Homo sapiens: one gene and its partners. The gene in region 1 interacts genetically with each later gene. Each region holds a gene or a part of one and is shown in the gene's direction. Other genes may lie near its edges.

Region 1 (3,836 bases):
TATTTTTGATGGTTCTACTCAGAAATGTAGCGGACAGTTAAGCCAAGAACTGCCAGAGGCTTTTTGGAGCACCAGTAATACTACCTTTGTAAAGACAAATGCTTTGAAAGAGGAGAAAATCATTACTAATGAAACTCTGGTCATTGAAAAACTGTCAAATAAAACCCCACGATCACTTTCTTCTCAAGTAGATACACCCATAATGACAAAATCATGTGTGACTTCCTGTACTAAGGAGCCAGAAACTTCTAATAAGTACATTGATGCATTTACTACAAGTGATTTTGAGGATGATTGGGAAAACTTACTAGGTAGTGAACCTTTTGCTATGCAAAATATCGACATGCCTGAACTCTTTCCTTCTAAAACAGCCCATGTTACTGATCAAAAGGAAATTTGTACCTTTAATAGTAAAACTGTTAAAAATACGTCAAGAGCAAATACAAGTCCAGATGCCAGGTTAGGAGATTCAAAAGTATTACAAGATCTTTCTTCAAAGACATATGACAGAGAATTAATAGATGCAGAATATAGATTTTCACCAAATTCAAATAAATCAAACAAATTATCCACTGGAAATAAAATGAAATTTGAGAACTCTTCCAATAAAATTGTTATTCAAGACGAAATTCAAAATTGTATAGTTACATCTAATCTGACAAAAATAAAGGAAGATATTCTTACTAACTCTACTGAAGCTTCTGAAAGGAAGTCAGCTTTGAACACAAGGTATTCTAATGAACAGAAAAATAAGTGCATTTTAAATCAGTCTATTAAAGCCCCTGTTAATACTGATCTTTTTGGCTCTGCAAATCTAGGCAGTAAAACCAGTGTTAGTAACCCAAATCAGACTAGTGCATCAAAAGTAGGTTCTTTCTTTGATGATTGGAATGATCCCTCATTTGCCAATGAAATTATTAAAGCATGTCATCAATTAGATAATACCTGGGAAGCAGATGATGTAGATGATGATTTGTTGTACCAAGCATGTGATGATATTGAAAGACTAACTCAGCAACAAGACATTAGAAAGGACAGTAAGACATCAGAAAGTATATGTGAGATCAATAATAATTCCGAACATGGAGCCAAACTAACTCAGCAACAAGACATTAGAAAGGACAGTAAGACATCAGAAAGTATATGTGAGATCAATAATAATTCCGAACATGGAGCCAAAAACATGTTTGCTATATCTAAACAAGGAAGTAATTTGGTACAATCAAAGCATTTGAATCCAGGCAGCATTTCAGTGCAGACATCTTTGACAAATAGCTCACAAATAGATAAGCCAATGAAGATGGAGAAAGGGGAAATGTATGGAAATTCTCCAAGATTTTTAGGTGCCACAAATTTGACTATGTATTCTAAGATCTCAAACTGTCAGATAAATAATCTGCATGTGTCTTATACTAACACTGATGTTCCAATACAAGTGAATAGTTCCAAATTGGTTCTTCCAGGAAGTTCAAGTTTGAATGTAACTTCAGATCATATGAATACAGAAATTACTACTTATAAGAAGAAATTGAGTACTAATCAGCCATGCCATAAGACTGTAACAGATGAAGCTCAGAGCAACCTTAACACAACAGTTGGATTTTCAAAGTTTACATTTACAAGGATGAAAAATTCTCAGATTCTTTCTCAGTTTAATCAAAATTGTATAACTGGAAGTATGTCTGATACCAAAATTACACAGGGTGTGGAGAAAAAGAAAGGTGTCAACCCATTACTGGAGGAAGCTGTTGGACAGCAATCTTTGGTGAAACTTTCTGAATCTTTGAAACAATCTTCAAAAGGTATGTATGAAATATGAAATAGTTTTCTTTGAAAAGCATCTTAAAAAGTAGTAAAATAATTATTTGTTGTTTTTGAGTGTGAGTAATGTATAAGGTAAAACTATTCTATGACTAGTTAATTTTAAGAATTAACTAGAATTCTTAAAATGATACTTGGAAATAATTATACGGCATTATACAGAGTAGTTGGTTTATTTTTCAAAATATTACATTGAATTCTTTCCCAGCACTTAATACAATGACTGGCATATAGTAGGTACTCAGTAAATATTTTTTGAATAACTTATTCTTTCTTGGAAAATCATACCTTTAGATATATGTATTATAGTGTTCATTAAGATTGTATTTACTAAATTGTTTTAAAACTTGAGTAATCTGGGAAGCAGATGATGAAGCAGTGAGGTAAATAATATTTAGAAATTTAGAGCATTCTAATTAAACGTCTTTACTAGTGTGATATTTGATATAAACGTGCTAGCGGTGATGGTTAAAATTATGATTTACTTATTTGATAACAGCTATCATTTCTGATTCTTCCAATTTCTCTTTTCCCCAAGTCTCCATTCTATCAATAAGTTTCATTCTTTCAAAAACCGTATCCCCAGACTCCATTTTTCTTTCTACAACAAGTTAACATTTCTTGATGAGACTACTGCAGTTCTTTTATCTATCTCCTTTCAATTCTTATCTCCAAACAGTGGAATAGCCTTTTAAAATTGGATGGGCAAAAATGGCGTTTCTATGCTTAAAACAACCTTCAATGGCTGCCCGTCATATTTCAAATAAAATCCAAACTGTATACTGTGACCAACAAAGCTGTGGATTATCTCTCTTTAACCTGCGTCTCCTCTTTTTTCCTTACCTACTAAGCTTCAGCTATACCAGCTATCTTTTAGTTTTTCAAACAGTGTATGTTTTTCTTCCTTGTCCAGGAACTTAGACCGTGCTCTTCCCTTTGACTAAAACTACTTCTTTTCAACATGTGACCCCTTCCCCACTCTTTTGTTGGTGCTTTCTTACATCTCAGTATAAGTACTACTTTCTCACAGAGGCCTTCCTTGAAGAGTCTATAAATAGATCTCCTTGTTTATTTTTTATTTCCTAATTGCTTTCATCACAAGTTGAAATTAAATATTTAGTGACTCTTCTCTGTCTTGTTGGCATTACTGTTCCAACTTTCCTATCTAAGTGACTTTTTTTAAAAATTTACAATAGTAATATGCTAGTTATTTAAAAAGAAAAGTAAAACAGTATAGAATAATTTAAAGGAAAAAGTTAAGTCTTCTGTTTCTCCTTTCTGATAACCATCCCTTACGGAAAACCACTATTAATAGTTGGTATGATGTAGCATTTTCTATGAATATAAAAAGATATGTGTGTGTGTATGTACGTATATATGTGTATGCATATATATATACCTATAGATCTATTTAAATATTAATAAATCTGTATACCCACTATTTGGCAACTTGCTTTTGCCTTAATATATTATAGCTGTCTTTTCCTATTAGTACATATAAATTTATTTTAGTCCTGTTAATGACTATGTGATATATATGGTGGATGTATCATAATTTAACTGTTTCTCTGTGATGGAAGTTTGGGTTGGTTGCAGTCTTTTGCAATTACAAACAATACTCCAGTAAATATCCTTCTGCATAAATTTCCGCATGCTTGTATAATTGTATCTGTTAATTCCTAAAAAATTGCTACAAGAGGAAGTTTTAAAATTTGATGGATACCACCAAATTTCTATCCGAAGCAGTTATACCAATTTATCTTATCAAAACTTACAGTAAATAATTCTCTACACCCAAGGGTGTCCAATCTTTTGGCTTCCCTGGGCCACATTGGAAGAATTATCTTGGATCACACATAAGATACACTGACACTAACAACAGCTGATGAACTAAAAAAAAAAAAAAAAAAAATCACAAAAGAATCTCATAATGTTGTAAAAAAGTTTATGAATTTGTGTTGGGCTGCATTCAAAGCCATCCTGGGCTGCGGGTAGCTTGCGGGCTGCGGGTTGGA
Region 2 (4,618 bases), on another chromosome or scaffold:
TCTTGGTCTGCAGATTGCAAAAACTGTGGGAGAAGCGTAGTATCTGGGCCAGATAGCACAGTACCTGACAGCTTCCCTTGGCTGGGGGATGGAGATTCCTAACTCCTTACACTTCACGGGTAGGCGATGCCCCACCCTGCTTTTGCTCACCCTCCATGGGCTGCACCCACTGCCTAACCAGTCCCAATAAGATGAACTGGGTACCTCAGTTGGAAATGCAGAAAGTGCTTGCCTTCTGTGTTGGTCTCGCTGGGAGTTGCAGACCAAAGCTTTTCCTATTACGCCATCTTGCCAGATCCCCGCAACCATCCCATATGAATTTTAAAGTAGTTTTCTTCTAATTCCGTGAAGAATGTCATTGGTAGTTTAATAGCAACATCACTGAATCTATAAATTTCCCTGGTCAGTTTGGCCATTTTGAAAATATTGCTTCTTCCTGTTCACGAGCATGGAATGTTTTTCCATTTGTGTCATCTCTGATTTCTTTGGGCAGTGTTTTGTAGTTCTCATAGTGGAGATTGTTCTCCTCCCTAGTTAGCTGTATTCCTAGGTATTTTATTCTTTTTGTGGCAATTGTGAATGGGATTGTGTTTCTGATTTGGCTCTGTGCTTGAAGGTAGTTGGTGTACAGAAACACTCCTGGTTTTTGTACATTAATTTTGTATCTTGAAGCTTTCCTGAAGTTGTTTATAAGATCAAGGAGCTTTTGGGCAGAGATTCTGGGATTTTCTAGGTATAGAATCACATGGTTTCCAAACAGATTGTTTGACTTGTGTGAAAAACATAGTGGAGTAGAAGCAAACACGTGTCAGCAATGGAATAGAAAAATAAAAGTGCCCATGAATAAATTTAATTTGAATGTGAAGAACTAATATGAAGCAAATAACACAGTCATTGTGTGGGATATGTTAAAAGACTTGAGGAATTGAGGAGTGGCTTTTTTTTGATAGAGAGATTCTAAAATAGGAAGATGGCTATTGTCCCAGAGTTAACATGTAATATAAAAATAATAACTAGTATCTCAACAGGAATATTTTAGCACCTGATCAAATGATTCTGAAGTTCATCTGAAAGACCAACGTGTCAGAATTGATAGAAAAGGAGAAATCAATGAGGGAGGGCAAGCATTATTTCACATTTCAAATATAATTTAAGCTACAGCAATTAAAATAGTGTAGTAGTGGTACAGGTATAAACAACTCAATGGAAGAAAATTAAAAGAAGAGAGTTACATACAAAATTGAGTGGGGATGTAGGTGATGATAAAAGAGCCATTTCAAAACAGTGGGTGCAACAGGGATTCAACAAATAATGTTGAGTTCCTACCACTTTAATTTTGTCCAGATGGATCAAAGATTTTGAACGTACAATAATGCAACCAAAAACTATGAATGTCTTATATTGGAATGGGTTAGACAATTGCAAGCATGACAGCAAACTCGTGAAGGAGGCAAGAAAATGATTTATGGAAGCGTATATAAAACAGATATTAAAATATTTAAGATTTATTTCTATGATGGTGAAGTTTTCTGAAACACATTATTAGAGTAACCTGGGGCTCATATTCTCCAAAGCCACTGGAAGTGAAAGAAAGGGTGGGCGGGGGAAAAAGAAAAGTGCTTTGCAAGTTCATTTTCGTTGTCAGGAGCGCTGGTGGTTTAGGTTCTCCACAGACGCAGGAAAACATCAGTCACGAGGCGAATGTCCCAGTCAGTGTGCATGCTGCACAGACCTGTTGCTGCACTTGTCTGTTGTTACGCATGTCTGTTGCTACACGTGTCTGTTGTTGCGCATGCGCCTTGCTGCCCGCCTTCTGTCCACACACAGCTCTGCAAGGAGAGTGTCTTCATTCTTTCCGCCATCTTGATTCTTTGTCACTGACCGAGACTCAGCCGGTAGGTCCGCAGAGCGGTCTTCCTGGGAATTTAGTTGTGGGTGAATGTGTGGAGGAGCCAGCTGGCTTTGGACAGGTCCTGCGGCACAGTCCGTGGCTTCCGAGGGAAAAGGGCCTCGCGGTCGTCGTCCGGCCCCTCCCAGGTCGGGATGCCACCGTGGGACTTGTCGTCGTGGCTGGGCTGGGACGAGGGACGAGGGAGGAAGGTGGGCCACAGAGGGGAGGGATCGCGTGAAGATGGGGCGAGTGCTGGGGGTGCTGTTAGAGGTGTCTGAGTCTCGAAAACTCCTGGAACCCTCTGAGAGAGGACAGTTTCCAGACTCCTCGGTAGGGACGCGGGAAGAGACCATGTGGTCAGTAAGGAAGGGGCCTGGGAACTGGGAACGCTGTGGGCCGGTGACTGTGGCCCCGAGGTCTGTAGAGTGCCTGGCAGAGGTGTCCCGTGAGGAGCATAACGTTCACTCTGTTTCACAATTTCTCACCTCCGCCATGGACGCCATGGAAGGAATGGGCGAGGCTGTGCTTTCCAACAAGACTTGATTTTGAGAGAGGTGTGGGGGTGAAATGGGCCTAGCAAATCAGAGTGGGACAAAAGCAGTAGTCATTTCAGTTTCAATTCTCTGCCCTTTTTTCCCCCAAATGTCTTCATGATGGAGAGTCTAATTGTGAAACCAAAACGCAGAAATGTCCTCTGTCTTTTGCTATGGCGTTAAGGGGATTTCTATGCCTCTTCGACTATGATACAAACAAATCTGTCCTTAGTTTGATTGGAAAGCGTGGGTACTTATCAATGCTCTGTGAATTACGTTGAAAATATTTTCAAAATTAAAAAAATACAAATCACCATTTTGCCATGGAATGTTCATATATATAGCTAAGTTCTTATACACTTTTTCCAAATAACAGTATTCTATTTTCAGTGGGAAATATGAGTGAGCATGTGAGAACAAGATCCCAATCCTCAGAAAGAGGAAATGACCAAGAGTCTTCCCAGCCAGTTGGATCTGTGATTGTGAGTCCTTTAACATTTGATGTTTCCTATTAACACAATTTATTTTAAGAAATATTTTTGAGCTAGTGTACACGCACTGATACAGGTGTTCCATGCTGATAAAAAATGATGATGGCATCTCATGAAGGAAACGTTGGTTCAGGAATATTATATTCTGGTGTTACCTGTATGGATATGGATATTTCTCTCTCTCTCTCTCTCTATATATATATATGTGTGTGTGTGTGTATATGTATATATGTATATATGTATGTATGTATGTATATATGTATGTGTATATATGTATGTATATACGTATGTATGTATATATACATATATGTATATACATATATATGTGTTTATATATGTTGGAAAAATGTCTTTAGATGTGTGATTCGATGCACATATGCATTTGTGTATTTATATTATTGACTTTTTATTCACACACACACTTACACCCTTAGGTCCAGGAGCCCACTGAGGAAAAACGTCAAGAAGAGGAACCACCAACTGATAATCAGGGTATTGCACCTAGTGGGGAGATCGAAAATGAAGGAGCACCTGCCGTTCAAGGTGAAGGGAGAGTGGAGAATAATGCTTATGGGTGGTGGAGGTCTATTTATGCATTGTATTTTATGACATACCAGTAACAGGAGGACAGAAAGCATTAGGAAGGAATCTTAAACATTTCCTACTGCTGCTGTGTGGAGGGGTGGGACAAGGACGCATAAAAAGCCACTAAGCTTTCCTACCACTTTGACGGAGGCTTTTTATTGATTGGGTATTTTCATGGTTGCCATAAACCTTTTTCCAGAGCTCCTGTATGCTTTGTTCAGCCATTTTCTGTTTTTTGTTGCTGTGGAAGAATGGCAGCTTGCAGCTTCCTAGTCTGCCATCTGTGGACACGTCATGTATTTTTTAAGAAACTTTTTAACACACCTTTATTGATGCTTCCTCATACCACGTAATATACTAAGTGCTGGAGATGTCAGTGCCAAATTTTTGCCTAAAGCTCATAGTCTAGTCAGATTGACTCAAACAAATCGCTGATTTAATGTGATAAGAATAAGAACAAATGAGTACAAAAGGGACAAGTAAGTTGTCTAGGGCCAGCCTTGGGAAAGGAAAGGGCAATGTTTGAACATCTCTGCTTTCCTGTTTTCCTGGCAGCAGATTCCTGAAATAATTAGCCTACAGGTTTTTACTTCATAATGATGAGGGAATAAATATTATCATTTCCTTGTTCATAGTTCATGTTTTAATTTGTAAACTGATGACCTTTTTATCTTTTAAGGGCCTGACATGGAAGCTTTTCAACAGGAACTGGCTCTGCTTAAGATAGAGGATGAGCCTGGAGATGGTCCTGATGTCAGGGAGGGGATTATGCCCACTTTTGATCTCACTAAAGTGCTGGAAGCAGGTTTGTTATTCATTTAAGATGCAAACTATTGTATTTCTATTTTCACAGTATTTTGTGTGACACAGAGGTAAAATTACTGCTACTTTAATATCATACTTCACGTCTGAAGGTTCTTTGAATGTAGTTCAGACCCCAAATGGCTGCCTTACACACTATCAGGGATAGAGGGCCAGGTGTGGTGGCTCATGCTGTTAATTCCAGCACTTTGGGAGGCCGAGACAGAAAGATCACTTGAGGCCAGGACTTCCAGAGATGGAGAAAAATTGGGTCAAAGCTAATTGGATTACGATATGAAAGATATGAAACATGCTAA
Region 3 (4,330 bases), on another chromosome or scaffold:
CCGCAGGCTCGGAAGCAGCCCTGAGTGGGGGTGCGTGGGGTGGGGTCTTGGGGAGGGGTCCAAATTGGGAACTGCACTGTGGGGCGGCTCCTACATCATCCCCCACCTGTCCTCAGTTTTCTTGGAAAATATCCAAGCTCACACGTCCCTCTTCTCATAACAGGGCCTTTCCCCTGAAGCCCCAGCCCCGGTGCACTGCTGGAGGCCACCCCAGCCCACCCGCTGCGTCTGGGCTGCTCCTAGCTCCTCCTCACGCTCCAGCACACCGACGCCTTCACGGCACTCACCTCCGGGCTGCTCCCGGGATTACCCTCTCATACCTGCATCCCGACCCTCCCAGCCGTTTCTGCCATCGCTAGCCCCCTGTCTACATCCCAGCATCTTCCTGGATCCCCACCTGTTCCAGGTCCCAGCTTGCCCCAGAACCCTATACGCCCCCTCCCCTTCCCTCGACCCCACCTTAACTCACACTGATGCGGACCAGTGCGTCCATGATGGAAGTGAAGGTCTGCATATCCTCACCCTCTGCCATGGCCCTACCGTGCCCGCCCGCCCCTGGGTGCCCGATCCCGGCTGCGGCTGCGAACCCCGGGCTTAATGCAGGAGCCCAGTGGGGGTGTGAGGAGGGCTGGGGGTTGAGGTGTCACTGCGCATGCTCCCGGGACCAGCCTCGAACAGCGCCCGTCGGGGTAGGGGGTGGGAAATAGTTCTCCCCACGTGGTTCTCGAAAGCCGGTCGGGGGGTTGGGGAATATGGAAAGGTATTTGACGGGGGAGCCATTTCTTACATTCTCATTTTTCATTGGCTCCTAATTTTACTCATATAAAGCGGGGGATTAGTTTCGGAGGAAAATGAGTTCCTGGTTGGGAGCACTAAATTTTAGGTTGGGAGATGTTGAGGCATGGGGCAGGGAGGTTTGAGGAACGTGCACTAGAGATGAAAGAAATGGCAAAGAAGACAGAGATGGGATAGATGCCACAGGCATGGGCCCAATGACTTAAAGAGATAAGTGCACCTTGTACAGAGTGGCAGCAGACGCACCAGGTACGAGGAAAGCCTGAGGACCAGGGCGGTGGCCGAGGATGCCCCCTCGACGCATTATTTCCTCCCTGTCGCAAGAGGGCGCTGCGTCCAGGCACTGAGAGGAAGAAAGAGGAGAACGCGAGGAGTAGCAAGTCCGCGGTAAGCGCTGACGCATGCGCATAGCTAACCGCACCCGGTTCAGCTCGCCTTTCTTGGCCAGAGGCGCCGGTTGGACTCACGGGCGGGGCATGATGGGTAACAGGACCGGTGGGGTCCCCAGGAAGTCCTAGAGGGGGTCGGGGTTTGGGTGGACAAGCTTTCCTCGTCCTCTCCCGACAGAGCTGACGTGTCCTGGGTTCCACCGGGAGCGGGCATTTCCACCGGACGGGAGGGTTCGGGGTGTCCGGGGCTGGGGAATACGTAGGGGTTGCCGCGCGGTGTGGGGAGTTGGGGCGTGTGGCTGCAGTCCCGGGAGTTCTTGGAGGGGGTCGGCCCACCGAGCTTCCGGACCGGCTGATCTGCCCGTAGCTTGCCGGAGGGAGGGCGGAGCCTGACTCTCCGTCCCTTCTCCCATCCCCTCCAGTGGTGGGTACGGGCACCTCGCTGGCGCTCTCCTCCCTCCTGTCCCTGCTGCTCTTTGCTGGGATGCAGATGTACAGCCGTCAGCTGGCCTCCACCGAGTGGCTCACCATCCAGGGCGGCCTGCTTGGTTCGGGTCTCTTCGTGTTCTCGCTCACTGTATCCTCCCTGCAGTTGGAGGGGGCGGGCCACGTAGGCATGTGCCCTTCCCCTTCCCCACACAGCTCTGTCCCCGTTGCACACCCTACTCCTTAACTCCCTCAACCAGGCCTTCAATAATCTGGAGAATCTTGTCTTTGGCAAAGGATTCCAAGCAAAGATCTTCCCTGAGAGTAAGTGAATATTGGAGCTTGAGTATTTGAACTTTCTCCTCTTTAACCTCCTGAAACATGATATTGAATTTCCAGATGCTTAGGTGAAAGGTTGTTAAGGAGAAATATATTTACTGAAGCTGTCTGAAGACAGATGACGCTTTTCGATTCTGCACCTTGTATAGCTCCTGGAGTTGGAGCTGGAAGAGAAGGCCTTTGAAAGCAAGAAACTTTGGTACCTTCTGGCCAGCTCCCAGGGAAGGTTTGAGGGGAACAGGCAAATTTGGGCTGATGTTTTGCATCTATTCGCTGGGAGGCGGTCCTTGTTCCCACCAGAAGAAGCAGCAGGACCAAGTTCACTATGGAGTTCTGATGTGAAGTTAACTCAATATTAGAGAATTCTACTTATTTGAGGGAATTGTGAAGAGCCTAAATACTAGAGGCACCAAATATCTATGGCAGCAGGAATCCTGACCAAATCAGAATAACTGTTAGATTATTTCCTGTTTGGAATAATTCTTGTTCAATTGCTCATGTAATCAAGAATTGATGATTCAGTTATTTATGGAGAATTAAGTTTATAAAGCAAATTAAGTGTCAAGGCCAGATTACTTAAGGAATGCCACGTGCTCAGAAATTCACAGCAGATGCAATCTCATGTAAAACCCTCATGTGGTAAAACAAAGATCTATCATGGTTGCCCTTAATCTTTTCTCTTTTTTTTTTTTTTTTTTTTTTGAGACAAGGCTTTACTCTGTCGCCTAGGCTGGAGTGCAGGGATGTGATCACTGAAGCCTTGACCTGGTCTCAAGCAATCTTCCCTCCTCAGTCTTACCAGTAGCTGGGACTACCAGTGAGTGCCACCACACCCAGCTACTGTTTTAAGTTTTTGTAGAGATGGGGTTTCACCACATTGCCCAGGCTGGTCTCGAACTCCTGGGCTCAAGTGATCCTCCTATTTCAGCCTCCCAGAGTGCTGGAATTACAGGTGTGAGCCACTGTGCCTGGCTGCCCTCATTTCTTTGCCCCCCTCTAGGACTTGCTTTCTCCGCATAGCCCTTTTGCAGGCTTCAGAGTTCTTTCCATCCAGTAGCCCCGGGACTTCTCTCTGTTAGGTTTTGTTTCCATATGTATTACCTTCACTTGCTTCTTTTTTTTTTTTTTTTTGAGATGGAGTCTCGCTCTGTCACCCATGCTGGAGTACAGTGGTGTGAACCCAGCTCACTGGAGCCTCTGCCTCCCAGGTTCAAGCGATTCTCCTGCCTCAGCCTCCCGAGTAGCTGGGATTACATGCGTGCGCCACCATAACTGGCTAATTTTTGTATTTTTGGTAGAGATAGGATTTCACCATGTTGGTTAGGCTGGTCTTGAACTCCTGACCTTAAGTGATCCACCCGTCTTGGCCTCCCAGAGTGCTGGGATTACAGGGGTGAGCCACTGTGCCTGGCTTTTCAGTTGCTTCTGAAAGAAACCATTGGCTGGGTGGGATGGCACACGCCTGTAATCCTAGCACTTTGGGAGGTGTAGGCTGGCAGATAGCTTGGGCCCAGGAATTCAAGACCAGCTTGGGCAACATAGAGAGACCCTGTCTCTCCAAAAAAATACAAAAATTAGCCGGGCATGGTGGTACGCACCTATAGTCCCAGGTACTCGGGAAGCTGAGGTGGGATGATCGCTTGAGCCCAGGAGATCAAGGCTGCAGTGAGCTGAAACTGCACCACTGCACTCCAGCCTGGGCGACAGAGTGAGATTCTGCCTCAAAAATAAAAAAAAATAATAAAAAAAGAAAAGATGCCATTGTGGTGGGGCAAAGTTCTTGGCCCACTTTGCCTTCTCTGCCCTCTCCACCTGGGCAGGTGGGGCCCTGTTTGTCTTTGCTTTTGTCCTCTCACCTTCTCTCCCATCATATTCCAGGTAACCTAAAATCCTTTCCTGCCCCCATGAAGAAGTAGATCCAAGCACTCTGCCCTCCAACCTGTGTCCAGGGAGCAAGGCCTTCAACTTCCACCACTGGTCACCCAGCTTAATGAATTGACTCTCATTGTCTGGCTTCTTTTGGAAAGGGTTTAACTGGGTTCCCCAAATGGGAACACACCTTGCCCTTCAGACTCTGTTGTCCATCACCTTTCCTTTTTCCTTTTATGGGAGGAAAGCCAGGGTAGGGAAGTTATGTGAGATATGGGGCAGAGCTGGTAAAAAAAAGCATACATCTACATCCATGTTCTTTTTTTTTTTTTTTTTTTTTGGAGACGGGGTCTCACTCTGTTGCCCAGGCTGGAGTGCAGTGGTGCGATCACAGTTCACTGCAACTTTGAACTTCCTGGCTCAAGGGTTCCTCCAACTTCAGCCTCCTGAATAGCTGGGACTACAGGCATGTGTACCACTGTACTACCTGGCTAAATTTTTTTTAATTCAAT
Region 4 (4,409 bases), on another chromosome or scaffold:
CATACTGTGAAGCAAAGGGGCTTTCTAAACTCAATTTTCTTTCTTCTTTTTAAGTCCCCCCTTTCCCCTGTCCCTCGGGAGAGACAACAGAAAATAATTGATCCATCATCCAGTATCAGGCCCAGGAGATTTACATGCAAATTCCTCCTCGACCCCTTTCCAAATTTAAAATCCTAGAAGGGAAAAGAAAAATTCTAAAAGTAGCAGGAACCCTGCTGGCCACACCCCACCCCTTACCAGGTGAGAGATGTGGAGGGGATAATTCACCACAACCCCCCAGTTTCCTCCCGCGTCACACACGCCACCCCTCTCTGGTGTGGAACCACTTAAGATTTGGGTAAAACTCCCCTCTCGCCCTGGAGACGGGATCTGGAAGCTTTTAGGGGGCGGAGGTAGAGGTGGGGAGGCAGAAGGAAAATTCCCTCAAACGTTCGTCAGGCCTAAGAGAGTCGTCCCTTCACTCAAAATTGCCCGTCACCCCCCGCCCCCCACCATTAACTTTCGATTAAGACCTCCTCCTTAGGGCAACTAAACTTTACTTTGCACAATTAAGATTTGCCGCAGAAGAAGCGGGAGGGAGAAGCCGCAGCTCCGGGCCATTCTCCTTTCCCTCGCTCCCTCCAAGCCCCCCGCCCCAACCCTCCAGCTCCGGGCCTCCGAGTTCCTGAGTTTTCTCACTTTGAGGTGCCACCGAACACAAAGAACCATAATGGGCTCCTTTGTGTTGGCTACGGGGCAATTACGCCTCGGAGTCCTGGTCCCTTTAAGAGTCTCTTAAAGAGACAGGATCCCATTTTTCAGAGGGTTTTTTAAGGGTGTGTGGAGGGGGAGGGCGAGGGATCTACGTGTAAAGTGAAGTGAAACTTTCGCCTGGGCTCCAGAAAGAGCGGACAGAAAAGGTCTTTGTAAATTGTTAGTTTTTTTAAAGTCTGTTTTAATTTTTAAATTTGAGATTTTTCACTCGATTTGAAAAATTGGACTAGGAATAGGTGGGGTTCGAGGATCGGGGGCGGGGGCAAGGGTTTAAAGAGTCCCCACCCGGCAGAGCACCTCGGCCCGGGAAGAGGAGTGAGCCAGGGTCGAGTAGTGTCCCCCGATCTCGCCGCGGCAACTCCGGAGAAATCCCGGGCTGGGCAAACAGCCCTTAATATAATAATAGCTTGTCTCTTTAAAAAGCAAAAGGGGGGGAAAGTTTTGTTGGCATCTGGTTTCTGATCTCATTATGTTGTGGTCGACCAATCCAGCCCTCGGGCCTGGTCCTCGGGTTTAAATCTGATTGGCCGAGAGCACATTTTGGGTTGGTGCTTAGAGCTCGACGGGGCGGTTTCAAGGATCCCTTTTTTGGGGGGCTGAGGAGAGGGCGGGGCCGCCAGCGGGGGCCCCCTTGAAACCGACTAATTGGGATCGGAGAGGCCGAGGTGAGGGCTGGAGGAGGCACAAAGAAGTCGCTGGGTGCAGAAGGGAGGGGAGAGGGGGAGCTGAGAGGCGAGAGGAGGAGGAAGAGGAGAGAGGGCAGCAGCGCGCGGTGTCTCCGGCTGCTCAGTCCGACCGCGGCAAGCAAGCGGGCAGGCGCACCGCCCCCTCCCCCGCCCGGCCTCCCCAACTCTGCGGCCGCGAGTAAAGTTTGCAAAGAGGCGCGGGAGGCGGCAGCCGCAGCGAGGAGGCGGCGGGGAAGAAGCGCAGTCTCCGGGTTGGGGGCGGGGGCGGGGGGGGCGCCAAGGAGCCGGGTGGGGGGCGGCGGCCAGCATGCGGCCCCGCAGCGCCCTGCCCCGCCTGCTGCTGCCGCTGCTGCTGCTGCCCGCCGCCGGGCCGGCCCAGTTCCACGGGGAGAAGGGCATCTCCATCCCGGACCACGGCTTCTGCCAGCCCATCTCCATCCCGCTGTGCACGGACATCGCCTACAACCAGACCATCATGCCCAACCTTCTGGGCCACACGAACCAGGAGGACGCAGGCCTAGAGGTGCACCAGTTCTATCCGCTGGTGAAGGTGCAGTGCTCGCCCGAACTGCGCTTCTTCCTGTGCTCCATGTACGCACCCGTGTGCACCGTGCTGGAACAGGCCATCCCGCCGTGCCGCTCTATCTGTGAGCGCGCGCGCCAGGGCTGCGAAGCCCTCATGAACAAGTTCGGTTTTCAGTGGCCCGAGCGCCTGCGCTGCGAGCACTTCCCGCGCCACGGCGCCGAGCAGATCTGCGTCGGCCAGAACCACTCCGAGGACGGAGCTCCCGCGCTACTCACCACCGCGCCGCCGCCGGGACTGCAGCCGGGTGCCGGGGGCACCCCGGGTGGCCCGGGCGGCGGCGGCGCTCCCCCGCGCTACGCCACGCTGGAGCACCCCTTCCACTGCCCGCGCGTCCTCAAGGTGCCATCCTATCTCAGCTACAAGTTTCTGGGCGAGCGTGATTGTGCTGCGCCCTGCGAACCTGCGCGGCCCGATGGTTCCATGTTCTTCTCACAGGAGGAGACGCGTTTCGCGCGCCTCTGGATCCTCACCTGGTCGGTGCTGTGCTGCGCTTCCACCTTCTTCACTGTCACCACGTACTTGGTAGACATGCAGCGCTTCCGCTACCCAGAGCGGCCTATCATTTTTCTGTCGGGCTGCTACACCATGGTGTCGGTGGCCTACATCGCGGGCTTCGTGCTCCAGGAGCGCGTGGTGTGCAACGAGCGCTTCTCCGAGGACGGTTACCGCACGGTGGTGCAGGGCACCAAGAAGGAGGGCTGCACCATCCTCTTCATGATGCTCTACTTCTTCAGCATGGCCAGCTCCATCTGGTGGGTCATCCTGTCGCTCACCTGGTTCCTGGCAGCCGGCATGAAGTGGGGCCACGAGGCCATCGAGGCCAACTCTCAGTACTTCCACCTGGCCGCCTGGGCCGTGCCGGCCGTCAAGACCATCACCATCCTGGCCATGGGCCAGATCGACGGCGACCTGCTGAGCGGCGTGTGCTTCGTAGGCCTCAACAGCCTGGACCCGCTGCGGGGCTTCGTGCTAGCGCCGCTCTTCGTGTACCTGTTCATCGGCACGTCCTTCCTCCTGGCCGGCTTCGTGTCGCTCTTCCGCATCCGCACCATCATGAAGCACGACGGCACCAAGACCGAAAAGCTGGAGCGGCTCATGGTGCGCATCGGCGTCTTCTCCGTGCTCTACACAGTGCCCGCCACCATCGTCATCGCTTGCTACTTCTACGAGCAGGCCTTCCGCGAGCACTGGGAGCGCTCGTGGGTGAGCCAGCACTGCAAGAGCCTGGCCATCCCGTGCCCGGCGCACTACACGCCGCGCATGTCGCCCGACTTCACGGTCTACATGATCAAATACCTCATGACGCTCATCGTGGGCATCACGTCGGGCTTCTGGATCTGGTCGGGCAAGACGCTGCACTCGTGGAGGAAGTTCTACACTCGCCTCACCAACAGCCGACACGGTGAGACCACCGTGTGAGGGACGCCCCCAGGCCGGAACCGCGCGGCGCTTTCCTCCGCCCGGGGTGGGGCCCCTACAGACTCCGTATTTTATTTTTTTAAATAAAAAACGATCGAAACCATTTCACTTTTAGGTTGCTTTTTAAAAGAGAACTCTCTGCCCAACACCCCCACAAGGTTTGTAATTAAAACTGTAAATAGTCTTTGTAAATTTAATTATATATATTTTCTATTTAAAAGAAAAAAGGAGAAAAAAAAACAGGGGTGTGGGCGCCAGGACTGAAGAATGAGGTGTGTGTGTGTTGGGGAGTGTAGTTGGGGGGAGGGTTCTCTTTCTTAAGTGCCCTTCAAAACCCGCCCCACTTTTGGAGTTTTTTGGTGATATGGCAGGGCTGGGCCTGATGGGAGAGGCACCCAGCCTGAGCGCTGTTTTTGTTGGCTTTGAGTCGTTAGGAGTTTGTTCCATTCAACTAATATAAAAGCCAAATTTGTGAGCCTCCTCTCTGACGCTGGGCCTGTGGAAGCCGTTGGATATTTTTGAACAGGACTTGGATTCGTTTTGTTTCCTTCCCCCTTTTCTTTCCCTACTCATTTGTCCTGTCTTCTTCACTCACTCTTGGAAAAGTCCCAACAGAGATGAAGACGTGGAAAAAAAAATCGGGGTCGGGGTGTGCTGGTGGGGAGAGGGCAGAGATCCGGTGAGGAATGGCTTCCACCCCCTGGCCCATTCCCCTGCAGGCTGGAAGATCTTTCTCCTGTCTGGCTTCTCTTCTTTTCAATTCGCTGCACCAAGTGCTTCCAGTGGCCCAAAAATGCTTTTTGAAGTGTGTTTTGAAACAGCCCCCACCAACATACACCCCACCAGGAGTACTGATCCTGCCTCCCTTCATGTCTAGGGGAAGCATTCGCCTTTGAGCACTTGTTTGCAAATCTGGGGAGTTTGAGACCTCCTAGCATCTCTTCCCTTCTTTCCCTGCAGTCTAT
Region 5 (3,836 bases), on another chromosome or scaffold:
CAGACTCCTGAGTAGCTGGGATTACAGACATGTGCCACCATACCTGGCTAATTTTTGTATTTTTAGTAGAGACAGGGTTTTACCATATTGGCCAGGCTGGTCTCGAACTCCTGACCTCAAGTGATCCACCTGTCTTGGCCTCCCAAAGTGCTGGGATTACAGGCGTGAGTCACTGCACCTAGCCAAAATTATTTTACTTTATTTTATTTTAATTAATTAATTTATTTATTTGGAGACGGAGTCTTGCTCTGTTGCCCAGGCTGGAGTGCAATGGCGCTGTCTTGGCTCACTACAACCTCTGCCTCCCAGGGTCAAGCGCTTCTCTTGCCTCAGCTTCCCAAGTAGCTGGGATTACAGGCGCCTGCCACCACACCTGTCTAATTTTTATATTTTTAGTAGAGATGGGGTTTCACCATGCTGGCCAGGCTGGTCTCGAACTCCTGACCTCAGGCGATCCACCCGCCTTGGACTCCCAAAGTGCTGGGATTACAGGCGTGAACCACCGGGCCTGGCAATTATTTTTTTTTTTAAAAATTTTTATTCATTTATTTTATTTATTTATTTTTGAGACAGAGCCTTACTCTGTTGCCCAGGCTGAAGTGCAGTGCCGCGATCTCCACCCACTGCAAACTTCACCTCCCTGGGTTCAAGCGATTGTCCTGGCTCAGCGTCACAACCTCAGGTGTGCGCCACCACCACTGGGTAATATATATATATATATTTTGTATTTTTAGTAGAGACAGGGTTTTGCCATGTTGGCCAGGCTGGTCTCGGACTCCTGACCTCAAGAGATCTGCCCGACTTGGCCTCCCAAAGTGCCAGGATTACGGATGTGAGCCATCACGCCTGGCCTCTTTTAAAAAATTTTTAGTAGAGACTGTGTCTCGTTATATTGCTCAGGCTGGTCTCGAACTCCTGGTCCAAGCCGTCCTCCCGATTTGGCCTGTGAAAGTGTTGGGCTTACAGGCGTGAGCCACCCTTCTGGCCCAGAGAATTTCTTTACAGCCACCTTCAAGATGGAAAAGCAGGGGAAGATTAGAGTCCTGCCTTGGGGAGAAAAAGGAGCGAATGAAAGGAGGGGCAGGAGAGTGTCAGAGATATTTCTGGGGACTGCTTCTGAGACTTAAAGCACCCCAACAGTATAATAAAAGACTGTAACAAGAGTTATGGGAGTTATAAACCAGGAATCATGGATGAAAACCAATATGCAATATCACAAGGTCACATAAAATGGGTTTCCCATCAGAAAAATAGTTGTGTTTGAAGCTGAATAGAAAATTAAGCTCTATTCTGCATTTAATGAAACCGTAATAAGTTTAAGCCATACATTAATATTTCTGTAACTATAAAGCTAACATATTCATTGTAGAAAAATTGGAGAAAATTTTCAAAAAAGAAACTAAAAGTACACAGACTACTATTGAGAGATAACCACTAATAACATTAGGATGTATTTTCTTTCAGATTGCATTTTTAAAGTTAAAGAGAAAAATCTGTATATATGTTCTCATAGTGAATTCACATTTAGAACCTTGTGATTCTGAGACAATGACTCAGCATTTTCTAGTTCTTACAATTGCATTTTTACTTAACAGCATTTAATAATTATCCTTACACTGAGGAGCCAGCAGGCTGAATTTACTTGCTTTGTTAAAGTTTAACAAGAATATATTAGGTTGGGGAAGCCAAAGTGGGATTTAATTTGTTCACTTAAGACTTTGCTCCCCTTGGTGAGCCAACTTGGTAAGTTTTTTGAGAAACGGGACCAATCTACCTTGGTATTTGCATGACCATTGCTATGTTTTCTTCCTTAGGGTTTTGTGTAGATTTGGATGCCTTTTTTAAAGCCCTTATTTTAGGTTCCGGTGCAAATGGGGAGAAATTTAGTGCCTGTCAATACCCTTCCTTTTAAGTCAGTGGGATAGATCGATGCTGAAGATGTAGAGCTCACTTATTTTTTGTGTTCGTACAGCTGTCCAGCCAGTAAAGTTTGGAGACAAGGAATTGGGTCCACCTACCATATAACGCTTGACAAGTCATTTAATTCTGGTCCTCCAGAATCTGGTCCCATTTGCAAATGGTCTGCCTTACAGAGATTTGGCGAGGTTGAAAGAAAAGAATGTTCAAGAATGTGTCTTGTAATCTGTAAGCTGTTATTCTCCTGCTTTTTGTTCCTCCCTTATGTTTAATTCCGGTAAAATTATGGAGTTGTGATCTTTTTATTGGGAAGAACTCAAGTTTGTGAGTGCTCTTACTCAGATAGTTACTTTAAGAAAAGGCATAGAGACCATATGAGCTGAACTGATGAAGTCTTTCCTAAAAACACGGTGGAGGAAGAAAAAACAAAACCAAACAGGGATCTTTCTGGAAAGGCATAGATTAAAACTTTACTACAGTAAGCCACTCTCACACGTGGGCATGGGCCACTTTATATTGGGTTAGTTAGGATTGAAATGTGCTGTAAATGCACAATACACACAAGATTTTGAACAGATTTCATGTAAAAAGGAATCTAAAATATCTTATTAATTTTTATTTTTTGAGACACAGTTTCACTCTGTTGCGAAGGCTGGAGCCGCCTCCTGGGTTCAAGTGATTCTCGTGCCTCAGTCTCCCAAGTAGCTGGGATTACAGGCGTGCGCCACCACACCCTGCTAATTTTTGCATTTTTAGTAGAGACGGGGTTTCACCATGTTGCTCAGGCTGGTCTCTAACTTCTGACCTCGTGATCCACCCGCCTCGGCCTCCCAAAGTGCTGGAATTACAAGTGTGAGCCACTGATCTGAATATGTTTATTCTTAAGAGGGTTTAGTTTACCAAAGCACTTACACTGCTATGTGTATACTGCCTTAATGCCTTTTTTTTTTTTTTTTTTTTTTTTTTTGAGACGAGTCTTGCTCTTTTGCCCATGCTGGAGTGCAGTGGCTTGATCTCCGCTCACTCCAACCTCTGCCTCCCAGGTTCAAGCCATTCTCCTGCCTCAGCCTCCTGAGTTGCTAGGACTGCAGGCATGCACCACCACGTCTGGCTAATTTTTTGTATTTTTAGTACAGACGGGGTTTCACCATGTTGGCCAGGCTGGTCTCGAACTCCTGACCTCAAGTGATACGCCCGCCTCAGCCTCCCAAAGTGCTGTGATTACAGGCGTGAGCCACTGCGCCTGGCCATGTAAATGGATTAATACTCCAAATTATAGGTCCTCTCTATAACCTCCTCCCTTATACTCACTACAGTGGTGAAACATTTTATTTTTCAGTCTTCTCAGAACTAACTTACTGATTACACACTAAAATCTCTGCTACAATAATTTAATTATTAGCTTTTGCAGTGCCATGATCATGGTTCACTAGCCCTGACCCCCTGGGCACAAGGGTTCCTCCCACCTCAGCCTGGACTACAGGCACGCACCGGCACGCACCACCACGCTCAGCTAGTTTTTGTTTTTGTAGAGATGGGGTTTTGCCATGTTTTAAATCATTTTGATTGAAAAGAGATGCTAATAGTAGTTATCATTTGTTGAATGTGTACCATGTGCTAGGCCAAATGCTCTAAATTATCCTCTTTAGTGTTTGCAGTATACATATGAAGTAATTTTTTTTTTCTTTTTTTTCTCCTGAGATGGAGTTGCCCAGGCTGCAGTGCTGTGGCACCATCTTGGCTCACTGCAACCTCCATCTCCTGGGTTCAAGCAATTCTTCTGCCTCAGCCTCCCAAGTAGCTGGGATTCAGGTGCCCGCCACCACGCCCAGCTATTTTTTTTTTTTTTTTAAACAGAGTTTTGCTCTTGTTGCATTTTTATTAGAGACAGGGGTTTCACCATGTTGGCCAGGCTGGTC
Region 6 (4,403 bases), on another chromosome or scaffold:
CCTGTAATCTCAGCACTTGGGAAGGCCGAGGCGGGCGGATCACCTAAGGTCAGGGTTTCAAGACCAGCCTTACCAACATGATGAAACCCCGTCTCTACTAAAAATACAAAAATTAGCCAGGCATGGTGGCGGACGCCTGTAATCCCAGCTACTCAAGAGGCTGAGGCAGGAGAACCGCATGAACCCAGGCGATGGAGGTTGCGGTGAGCTGAGATTGTGCCACTGCACTCCAGCCTGGGTGACAGAGTGAGATCTTGTCTCAAAAAAAAAAAAAAATTGTGGTAAGATACCCATAATATAAAATTCACCATTAAAAAATAACACGGAAGGGATCATCGTGAATGCAATGTGAGTATTGATGAGGATGGTGGTGATCTTCCAGAACCTTCTCTGACGCCACCCAGGCCGCCAGCCTTACTTTACCGGCTTCGGCGCTCATCATACTGTGCTGCAAATGCCAGTTTCCTCCTTCCCCCTTGGGAAGTTTCCTCCTTGGGGGTCGGCACCTAGACTGTATACCCCCCAGGGCGGAAACAGCGGTTCACCCACCAGGTGCTTAAGAAGGGTTTGTGGACCAGTGGACCTCCTGCTCTCCCTGGGGAAAGGAGCTGGGACATGTGTACACACCTGCAGCTACAAGATTCGGAGGGCGCACAGAGCCTCAACCGTAAGAAGGAGAGGCGATCAGGCTGAGGAAGATGGGGCAGTGGAGCTGGATGGATAGAGAGAGGGTGGGTTCATTCATTCGTTCACTCATTCGTTTATTCATATTCATCCATCCATCATTCATGCCCTGAGCGTGCGTTGTGTTCTGGGCAGGGCCTGTGCTGGGCACCGATTGTGTAATATATCATCTCTCCCTTCAAGGTGCACCCAATCTGGGTGGGTGGGTAGAGAGAAGCTACGGTGACAAGGCAAAAATTTGGGAAACACTCTCGTTAACAATTCAAACTGTGGTCCCCTCCCAGATGTATAAATCCAAATGTTTAGGGGTGGGCACAGTACTCTGCATCTCCAGACAGCATCCTCCGCTGATTCGGATGCATGATGACGTCAGAACACTTGGATATTGTGGTAACTTTTGGGCCAGGGGCTCTGAAACCCCGAAGACCTCCCCCTGGGAGATCCGGGACAGCTCCCAGAGAAGGTGAGTCTTAAACACATCCGTGACAGGCAATAAGGAAAATAAGGGGGGTCCGCTCTGCTGATCAGCCCTAAGAGCCGCGGCGGTTGTCGGCTGGGGCGGGGCACTCCACGACTTTCCCGGCCAGACACGGTCGCCTTCCTAGGTGTCTTGGCCTGCGAGGCACTCGTAGCCCGCCCCTCTCCTAGGTGACGTACATTGGAGACGCCGTCGCTCAGCGACCCGGGTTCGAGTCCCCGCCTCGGCCGCCATGGCGGATGCGGAGCCGGAGGCTGGGGGCGGCAGCGAGGATGGCGGCGGCGGCGGCGGCCCGGCTCCTCCGGGCCAGAGCGGCAGCGTCGCACGTGTGGCCCCGCTGGGCCCCGAGCAGCTGCGGCAGGTCCTGGAGCAGGTGACGAAGGCGCAGCCGCCGCCGCCGCCGCCCCCCTTCGTGCTGCGGGACGCGGCGCGGCGGCTGCGGGACGCGGCCCAACAGGCCGCCCTGCAGCGGGGCCGGGGCACCGAGCCCCCGCGCCTGCCGCGCCTGCTCCCGCCCCAGGTGAGGCGTCGGGAGGGACGTGGGGAAACTGAGGCCCGAAGGGGGCCGACGCCCCGCGGCGGGGTAGCTGCTTGTCCGGGGAGGCCAGTATCCGCCCGGGTTAAGACTCAGGGCGTCCCCAGGCTGAGCTTCTTAGGGACGGCGTTCGGCCCCCACCTGTCACCACCCTGGCATTTTCACCCCAGGAGCCTCACTCTAGGAGCGGTTGCTCACGCTGGGCCCTGTGCCTGGAACGCCCTCGTGCCTTCTCTGCCTTCACAGCCCTGCTGGGGGCTTTTGCGTGCTCCCTAGCTCTTCTTACAGGCCTTTCACCGCTGGTTCAGCCTTTGTGGAGCACTTAGAGACCGTGTTCCCAGCACTCCCCACTATGTGCAGGAGGTGAAGCCTTGAACACACTTGCTGAAGAACGAACATAAGGCAGGTTCTGGGATTGACGGGGGCTGCTTTAGAGTGGGTGGTCCCGTAGGCCAGACACTGGAGCTGAAACATAAATGAATTAAAAGGAACCAACTTAGCTTTTCAGTTGTAAGGTGCCAAGGCCCAGGCTTGGAACAAAGTCAAGCACAATACACTAGTTCGCTGCAGGACTTAACATCCTGGGTGATAGTGACTGATTTGTAACCGCAGTACCCAGCACAGTGCCTGATACACAATGTTTGGAATATGTGAAAGCACTCTGTATACTACAAAACATCCTTTCCCAGTGGGTTTATTTCCTGGGCCACACACCTTTTGGTTGCTAGGGGGGTGATAACTAGAAGACGGTCGCCCAACTCCGGAGGGTGAAGCATAGCGCCTGAAGCCAGAGGGCCTACACGGCATCTGTAAAATTCCACCCCATTTCAGCGCTGGGGTTGTAAACAAAATTAGTCTCACCCCAAAATTGCCAAAAGAAGACAGCTTTTTCCACTAGAAGAAACGGGTTAGGGAATAGAATCAGGAACCTTCACTCGTTGAGTTTTTTTGACTGATGTTAGCTGCTTAGGGTTGTATCCAGTTAATCATCAAGACTGGAGAGTTGTCTTGCTAAGGTTTAGGAAGACCAGTGTGATTCTGTCCAGATGCCACACTATCACTATCTAGAGGTGTGACCTTGGGTAAGTCAACCTTTTTGGACTTTGGTCTGGGTCAGAAGGCTGCAAGGTGCCATCTGGGGGCAGCTATCTGCAAAGCCTCTGCTCTGCGCCCGGCGCTGTGCGGGGCCGCTCAGTTTTCAGCAGTGTTTTTGTACCGGCATTTTGCAGGTGGGAAACAAGCTCAGGGAGGTTGCGTGGCTTTGCCCAAGGTCCCTCAGGTGTGGCTGCTCTCCCTAGCCCCTGTACTCCTCACCATACCCTGCTGAATATGGCCACAGCTTTTTGGGTTTGGAATCCAAAAATGACATATTTTTCGTAAAGCAAAAGCAAACTTATTCGAGCTTAGGCAGCATGATGGGATTGTATTTTGTAGCTAATCTAATGGAGACGATATAAATTCTACCTGCAATAATATACCTTTGCAGCACATTCTTTTAATACTCTTTCAGCCCCAGCTGTGTCATGGAGGCCACAAAGGCAAACCGGATGCGTACTTTGCCCCTCAGTAGTTTATGAACTAACAGGAGATGAAACAAGACCCAGATAACTTCTAGTCAAGGCCAGAAAGCTAAAGATAGTGAAAAAGAACTGAATGTATTTAGAGAAAGGGAGATTGTTCCTGGCTGAGGACATCAGAAGCAGCTTTGTTGAAGAAGTGGTATCTGAACTAGATTTGAAAGGGTGCGTCTGAGTTGAAAATGCAGAAGGGGAGAGGCAGGTTCTGGGGCGGTTGGGGGTGCATTTCAACAACCACAGCAGAAGGCCCAGTGTTCGCTGTGGGGGTGGTGTGGATCAGCAGCACAGACCAATGGACACACTTGGGTCAGATCGAGGCCCCTGTCTCTCCCCATCCTCCCTCTTCCCCACCCCACAGAAATTTCCAGTTCCATCCAACATGCTGTGCCCCTTTTCATGCATCCGTGCATTTACACATGGATGTGTGCCCTTTTTCACCTGGCAAAAATTCCCAGCCTTCAAAATGCCCCTCAGAGATCACAGCTTCTGGGCAGCCCACCACCTCTGGGCTGTTCCTGCCTCTTGATTGCACCTGTTGTACCATGATGACATTTTTCCTGTCTGCCTCACCTGTCTGCATTCCTTAGGGAAGCTTGTCTGCCTTCAGAATCATCAGTGGAGCTTTTGAAAGGGCAGATCTTGGGGCCTCACCCCAGGAGATCCGATTCAGCAGGTCTGCGGGGACTGAGGTATGGCAGGGGAAACCGCCCCCATCTCAAGGGTGAGGTTAGGACTTGGCTCCTGTGTATGTATTCCACCCAGAAATACTGAGTTAACATTAGCTGAATTAACTAAACAAAGTATCAAGCATAATACCCACAGGGTAAGCCAGTGAGGATAGAGGATAAATACATTATTAGTCTGGCTTTGCCGCTGTGGTTATCCTCAAACAGTAGGGTTTAGTGTATGTATGTATATGTATTATGTTTTTGTTTTGGGGTTTTGTTGAGACAGGGTCTTTCTTTCTCACCCAGGCTGGACTGATCTCGGCTCACTACAGCCTCGAACTCCCAGGCTCAAATGATCCTCACACCTCAGCCTCCCGAGTAGCTGGGGCTACATGTATGCACCATCATGCCTGGCTAATTTAAAAATGTTTTGTAGAGACAGGGTCCCGCTATGTTACCCA
Region 7 (4,529 bases), on another chromosome or scaffold:
ACATCTGAGCACACAACCTGAGCGTCCTAGACCCCAAGGGCTAAGAACACAGCCCTCCTTCCACCCCACTAGCAGGGCAGGGACAGGGTCGCCGGCGCGGTGCTGGAGGAGGAGGGGCGAGCAGAGTTGGTAAGGGGCAAGAGCAGTGAATAGCCTGTGACCCACGGGGCTGCAGGCTGGGGTTAAGGGTATGATGTTTGGTGTGACCCCTAGCTGTCCGCGCGCAGATGTATTTTCCTGACGCTAAGGTGTGGCTGCAGGAAGGGCCCCAGGCTGGGAGCCAGGAGATCTGGGATTTTGTCCCAGCCTGCTGAGTGACCTGGGGAAAGCCCCAACCCTCTCTGAGTGTCTCTCCCTATATGGTTCCCGACTCTATTTCTAAGGTCCTTCCAGCTCTAAATGAAGTGACACTCTCCCCCCACCTCCCGCCCCCGCTCCCCAGGTGACCTCACTTCCTCTTCCTACCTGCAGCGCCCAGCCCCTCCTCCTCAGCTCCAGCTGCTCCAGCTGCTTGGTGATTCTTGGAACCTGCAGCCTCAGGCCTGCTCTGCTCTGACTCAGGCAGAACTTACCTTTGGGATCTGAGGGGATAGTTTTGCTTCCTGAACTGACTCTGACCTTTGGCATGTCCACCTGCCCTCCCCTTCCCCACTGCACACACCTGTTCCCAGTCCTCGGGCAGCCCAGGAGCTTTGACGGACCAGATTCCTTCAGATAAAGTAGCAGCACTGAGGGGCTCTCATCCACAGTCAGATGGTCCAGGGAGAGGCACCCCTTCCCCCCTCCAGCCTCTCTTTGCAACACACCATTCCTGGCTGGGCGTGCTCCACTCCACCCGCCTCACAGGCTGCGCGCCGGTCTGCCTCATGGAGGGAGCCTCACCCAGGCTACTTTGCAAATCCCCCAGCACCCTCATTCCCGGCCCTTCCAGGGATGGGGAGATTGCCGCTTCCTCAGACAGTTGCCGTGCCCTAGCAGGAGTCTGGAAATTGCCCTCATTGACTACAACGAAATGAGGGGACAGATCAAGGAGCCCTTCTCCAGCCCCCTAATACACTAGTGCTGGACAGGGGAATGCCGGCACCTACTGTGTGCCAGATATTTGCAAACACCCTTTTCCAAGCTTACACCGCCACCGCTATGAGGAAGACAGAATTCCACTTTTGCAAATAAGGAAACTGAAGCTCAGCGAGGTCAAGCGGCAGGCGCAAGGTCACATCGCAGCAAGTGGCAGTGAATGAACGATCTAAGGGAGCGACTGAGGGCGCGTGACGGGCCCGCCGGGCACTGGTTCGTGGAGCGTGGCGGTTACGGGCGGTGCACAGCGCCCGCAGCCCGCTCCTAGCGAGCTGGCCCCACGCGGGCCCTCCGCACCCGCTGCCCACAGGAGCGCAGGCTCCCAGAGGCGGGGCCGGGCTCTTCCCCAACCCTGCGAGTCGCCCCGCCCCCGCCCCGCCCCCAGCCCGCCCCGCCCGGGACCGCAGACGGCGCCCAGCGGCGGCGCGAACGGCAGCTAGGAGGGTTGCTCCGGGCTTGGTGCTCACTGCGACTTCCCGCGCAGGGCCCGGTCGGACTAGGACCCGCGGCCTGAGAGACGCTGGAGGATGCGGACGCGGAGGCCGCCTGGGGTAGCGGCGGCGGGAGTCCTGGCGCTCTGCAGGTAGGAGCTCGCCCGCTCGGCGGGCGCGGAAACTTGGGCCGAGTTTGCGGGCGGCGCGTGGAGAAGGGGCGGGTGGCGCTGCCCCAGGGCGCCCCTACCGGCCGGCCCGGGGACTGAGGGAGCCGCGCCTGGGCCGAGGGGCTGCGGCTTCTGGCTGCCGCCGGCCCCCCGCGAACGGGCTGCGGGGCAGGGGTGGCGCTGCTGCTCCGACTTTCCCCGGACTTCGAGGCTCCCGGGACCTGGTAGCGCTCTGGGTCTCCGGCGGAGAACAGGCGCCTAATCTGGCGAGAAGGAACTCAGGCCGAGCCCTCCGGCCTCCCGCAGGACCCTGTCACGTGGATTGCTGGGGGATGGCGTTGAGGAGGAGGTATGGGGACAAGGGGGCACTGGAGGGCTGGGCCTGGGGGCGCCGGGCGCTGAGGCACCGCGGGGCCCTGGACGCGCCCTGCTGGGATGGGACGGCCCTGCGGTTTTCTCGCCACCTCTTGACTCACCCCTCTGGCCTCAGCCCAGGCTGGCAGGATCGCCCTGAGGCGGAGGCTGCCCGGACCCTGTCGCCGGGCCGCCCCTGTTCCGGGACCTCCCGCCGGTCCGCGGGCGTCGGTGTGGGGCTGGGTGCGCGGGCCTGCCTGCGTGCACACGTATGCCCGGGGCCCGAGCGAGGGGAGAGCGCAGTTCTGGAATGGCGTGTGTGCAGATGTGGGCCATGCACGTACGTGCAGGCACGGGTTTGCATGCGTGGCGGCGGCCTGTGTGTCAGCCTGCTGGATGCACGTGCGTCTCGGCGCCGCCGGGAGGGGCTTGGGGACACCCGGAAGCCCGCCAGGTCGGGTGCGGCGGCAGCCTCTAAGCGAAATCGGCTGTGGGCCCTAGGCACCCGAGTTATGTTCAGGGCGGGTAGGGGAAAGGGGATAGAGACCGATCCCGTTCGCTTTCCCCTCCACTGGAGACTTTGGGCTGCCCCAGGTTGGGTTGTAGCGTCTGGAGAGCCCAGAGCCTCAGGTAGGGAAGGTGGGAGATGGGAGAACACTCGGCGAGGCCCGATCCAGCCCTCCGGGAGAATCCAGATGCTGGCCACAATTGGGCAGGAATCGCGCTCTTCTTCCTGGTCTTTGCCATCGGCCATCCCGAGGCCCCTAGAAGGTGAAAGTGGGAACAGAGAGCTGTTTCCTTTCCCACTGCGTAAGGCAGGGGCGGTGCTGCGGTGGTGGGCTCTTCTCCGGGACCCTGGCCTGGGTGCTGGCTGAGTGACGTTGGAGCTTGGCAGAGAGGATCAACAGAGCTGCCTCTCAAGGATGATCTGAGCCTGCTCCCTGGGCACCTGCCCTTTCCGAGAGCTTGCTTGCCTCAGTATGGGTCAGGGAAGGAGGCACCTACATTTTGGCAACTGTCTTGAGTGGAGGAGTCGTCTCCCTTGAGAGAGTGTATCCTGGGCTTTCCACCTCCTACTGGCAGGAGATCAGGTCATTCCCACACCCCTAAGAGTTCTCTGTTGGCTCCCTGAAGCCGCCACCCCTCCCACAAAGACTCCTGAGGGTCCCAGGTGGTTTCCTGTCTATTGACTGGGTCCCAGATAGGGGCCTCAAGAAGTCTCCAGAGCAAAGGGTATTCCATGGGCTGAGACCCAGGAGAGAGGGACTCCTGGGGTGGGGGTGGGGACCCAGCAGACCCCAAGAAGCATGTGGGGGAGGTGAGACCAAAGTCAGTACTTAACCCAGAGTGTCCCAAGGGTGGAGGTGGGGAGGATCCACACTTCAAAACCCTACAGTTCCTTCTCACAGCATTGCTGTGGAGTGAGATGGGGGCTTTCACCCCTCGATAGCAGGTTTCTATCATAGGACACTGCTGTTGGGACTGTCACCTGTGTCCTAATGGCCCCTCTGTGTCTTCTCTAGGCTGGCCTGAGGTGTGGGGTTCTGTCCAGGAGATGAACCAGCTTGCTTTCTGGGTCTGCCTTGGTGGAAGTGGGCATTGGCCCCCACACTAGCCTTGTGTTTTCTAACCCCAAAATGTGCCGGTCTAACTCAGCCTGTGGCTGTCATTGGCTCCAACCAGAAGAGGCAAGGAGAGGGCTGGTCCTTGCTTGCCAGTCACTGAAACCTGTGACACTTTGCCCTAATCATAGCAAGATTGAGCTAGGTGGTCCTTTCTAAGCTACTGAGAGTTTCCAGGAATAGGGTGCTGGCTGGGGGAGGTAGAGGTAGGTCAGTGTGGCCCCAGAAGACAGGCTTCAGATGAGCCCCTAACGGGTTACTGGGTGCCTGCTGCCCTGAGGGGCCTCAGTCCCCATCCTTCCTTGGTCTTGTCTTAGAGCTTTGTCTTTTTTCAGCACATAGTTTTTCCATCAATACAATGGGAGTAGTGGCTAAGTAGCACTCTGGCCCCTGGGGCCTCCCTCCCTGGACTTTTTTCTTTTCTTTTCTTTTCTTTTTTTTTGTTTTGTTTTTTGTTTTTTGTGTTTTTTTGAGGTGGAGTCTCACTCTGCTGCCCAGGCTGGAAGTGCAGTAGCACAATCTTGGCTCACTGCAACCTCTGCCTCCTGAGTTCACGCAATTCTCCTGCCTCAGCCTTCAGCGTAGCTGGGATTACAGGCATGCACAACCATGCCTGGCTAATTTTTTTGTATTTTTAGTAGAGACAGCGTTTCACCATGTTGGTCAGGTTGGTCTTGAACTCCTGACCTCAAATGATCCGCACACCTCGGCTTCCCAAAGTGCTGGGATTACAGGTGTGAGCCACAGCACCTAGCCACCTCCCTGGACTTTCACACACGCCCCTGACGCTGTCTTGGCCCCACCCTGCCATGTGCCTAGGAATCGCCATCTGCAGCTTGGGGGCTGGGGGTGGATCCAGGCTCCTCATGCTCTGG

Evidence for each region.
Region 2: changes in ETAA1 (region 1) and PAGE2B are lethal when combined (synthetic lethality), as found in Homo sapiens cells (one large-scale study listed by BioGRID).
Region 3: changes in ETAA1 (region 1) and KRTCAP2 are lethal when combined (synthetic lethality), as found in Homo sapiens cells (one large-scale study listed by BioGRID).
Region 4: changes in ETAA1 (region 1) and FZD2 are lethal when combined (synthetic lethality), as found in Homo sapiens cells (one large-scale study listed by BioGRID).
Region 5: changes in ETAA1 (region 1) and PATJ are lethal when combined (synthetic lethality), as found in Homo sapiens cells (one large-scale study listed by BioGRID).
Region 6: changes in ETAA1 (region 1) and ZNF839 are lethal when combined (synthetic lethality), as found in Homo sapiens cells (one large-scale study listed by BioGRID).
Region 7: changes in ETAA1 (region 1) and C15orf39 are lethal when combined (synthetic lethality), as found in Homo sapiens cells (one large-scale study listed by BioGRID).

Annotation. Positions count from the first base shown.
Region 1 is NC_000002.12:67,403,534-67,407,369, forward strand, and holds part of ETAA1 (ewing's tumor-associated antigen 1), read left to right. Parts: coding exon 1-1,802; intron 1,803-3,836. UniProt on the Homo sapiens protein: Replication stress response protein that accumulates at DNA damage sites and promotes replication fork progression and integrity.
Region 2 is NC_000023.11:55,073,220-55,077,837, forward strand, and holds the start of PAGE2B (putative G antigen family E member 3), read left to right. Parts: upstream 1-1,810; 5' UTR 1,811-1,895; exon of another isoform or gene 1,896-2,037; intron 2,038-2,800; exon of another isoform or gene 2,801-2,814; coding exon of another isoform or gene 2,815-2,822; coding exon 2,823-2,906; intron 2,907-3,349; coding exon 3,350-3,458; intron 3,459-4,179; coding exon 4,180-4,305; intron 4,306-4,618.
Region 3 is NC_000001.11:155,170,169-155,174,498, reverse strand, and holds the start of KRTCAP2 (dolichyl-diphosphooligosaccharide--protein glycosyltransferase subunit KCP2), read left to right. Parts: upstream 1-1,194; 5' UTR 1,195-1,274; coding exon 1,275-1,278; intron 1,279-1,606; coding exon 1,607-1,761; intron 1,762-1,870; coding exon 1,871-1,934; intron 1,935-4,330. Other genes in the region: TRIM46 (tripartite motif-containing protein 46), read right to left, coding at 470-532. UniProt on the Homo sapiens protein: Subunit of STT3A-containing oligosaccharyl transferase (OST-A) complex that catalyzes the initial transfer of a defined glycan (Glc(3)Man(9)GlcNAc(2) in eukaryotes) from the lipid carrier dolichol-pyrophosphate to an asparagine residue within an Asn-X-Ser/Thr consensus motif in nascent polypeptide chains, the first step in protein N-glycosylation.
Region 4 is NC_000017.11:44,555,943-44,560,351, forward strand, and holds the start of FZD2 (frizzled-2 precursor), read left to right. Parts: upstream 1-1,541; 5' UTR 1,542-1,746; coding exon 1,747-3,444; 3' UTR 3,445-4,409. UniProt on the Homo sapiens protein: Receptor for Wnt proteins.
Region 5 is NC_000001.11:61,745,390-61,749,225, forward strand, and holds part of PATJ (inaD-like protein), read left to right. Parts: intron 1-1,709; exon of another isoform or gene 1,710-1,743; intron 1,744-3,836.
Region 6 is NC_000014.9:102,318,372-102,322,774, forward strand, and holds the start of ZNF839 (zinc finger protein 839), read left to right. Parts: upstream 1-1,374; 5' UTR 1,375-1,394; coding exon 1,395-1,682; intron 1,683-1,701; exon of another isoform or gene 1,702-3,861; coding exon of another isoform or gene 3,862-3,963; intron 3,964-4,318; exon of another isoform or gene 4,319-4,393; coding exon of another isoform or gene 4,394-4,403.
Region 7 is NC_000015.10:75,200,400-75,204,928, forward strand, and holds the start of C15orf39 (uncharacterized protein C15orf39), read left to right. Parts: upstream 1-1,482; 5' UTR 1,483-1,660; intron 1,661-4,529.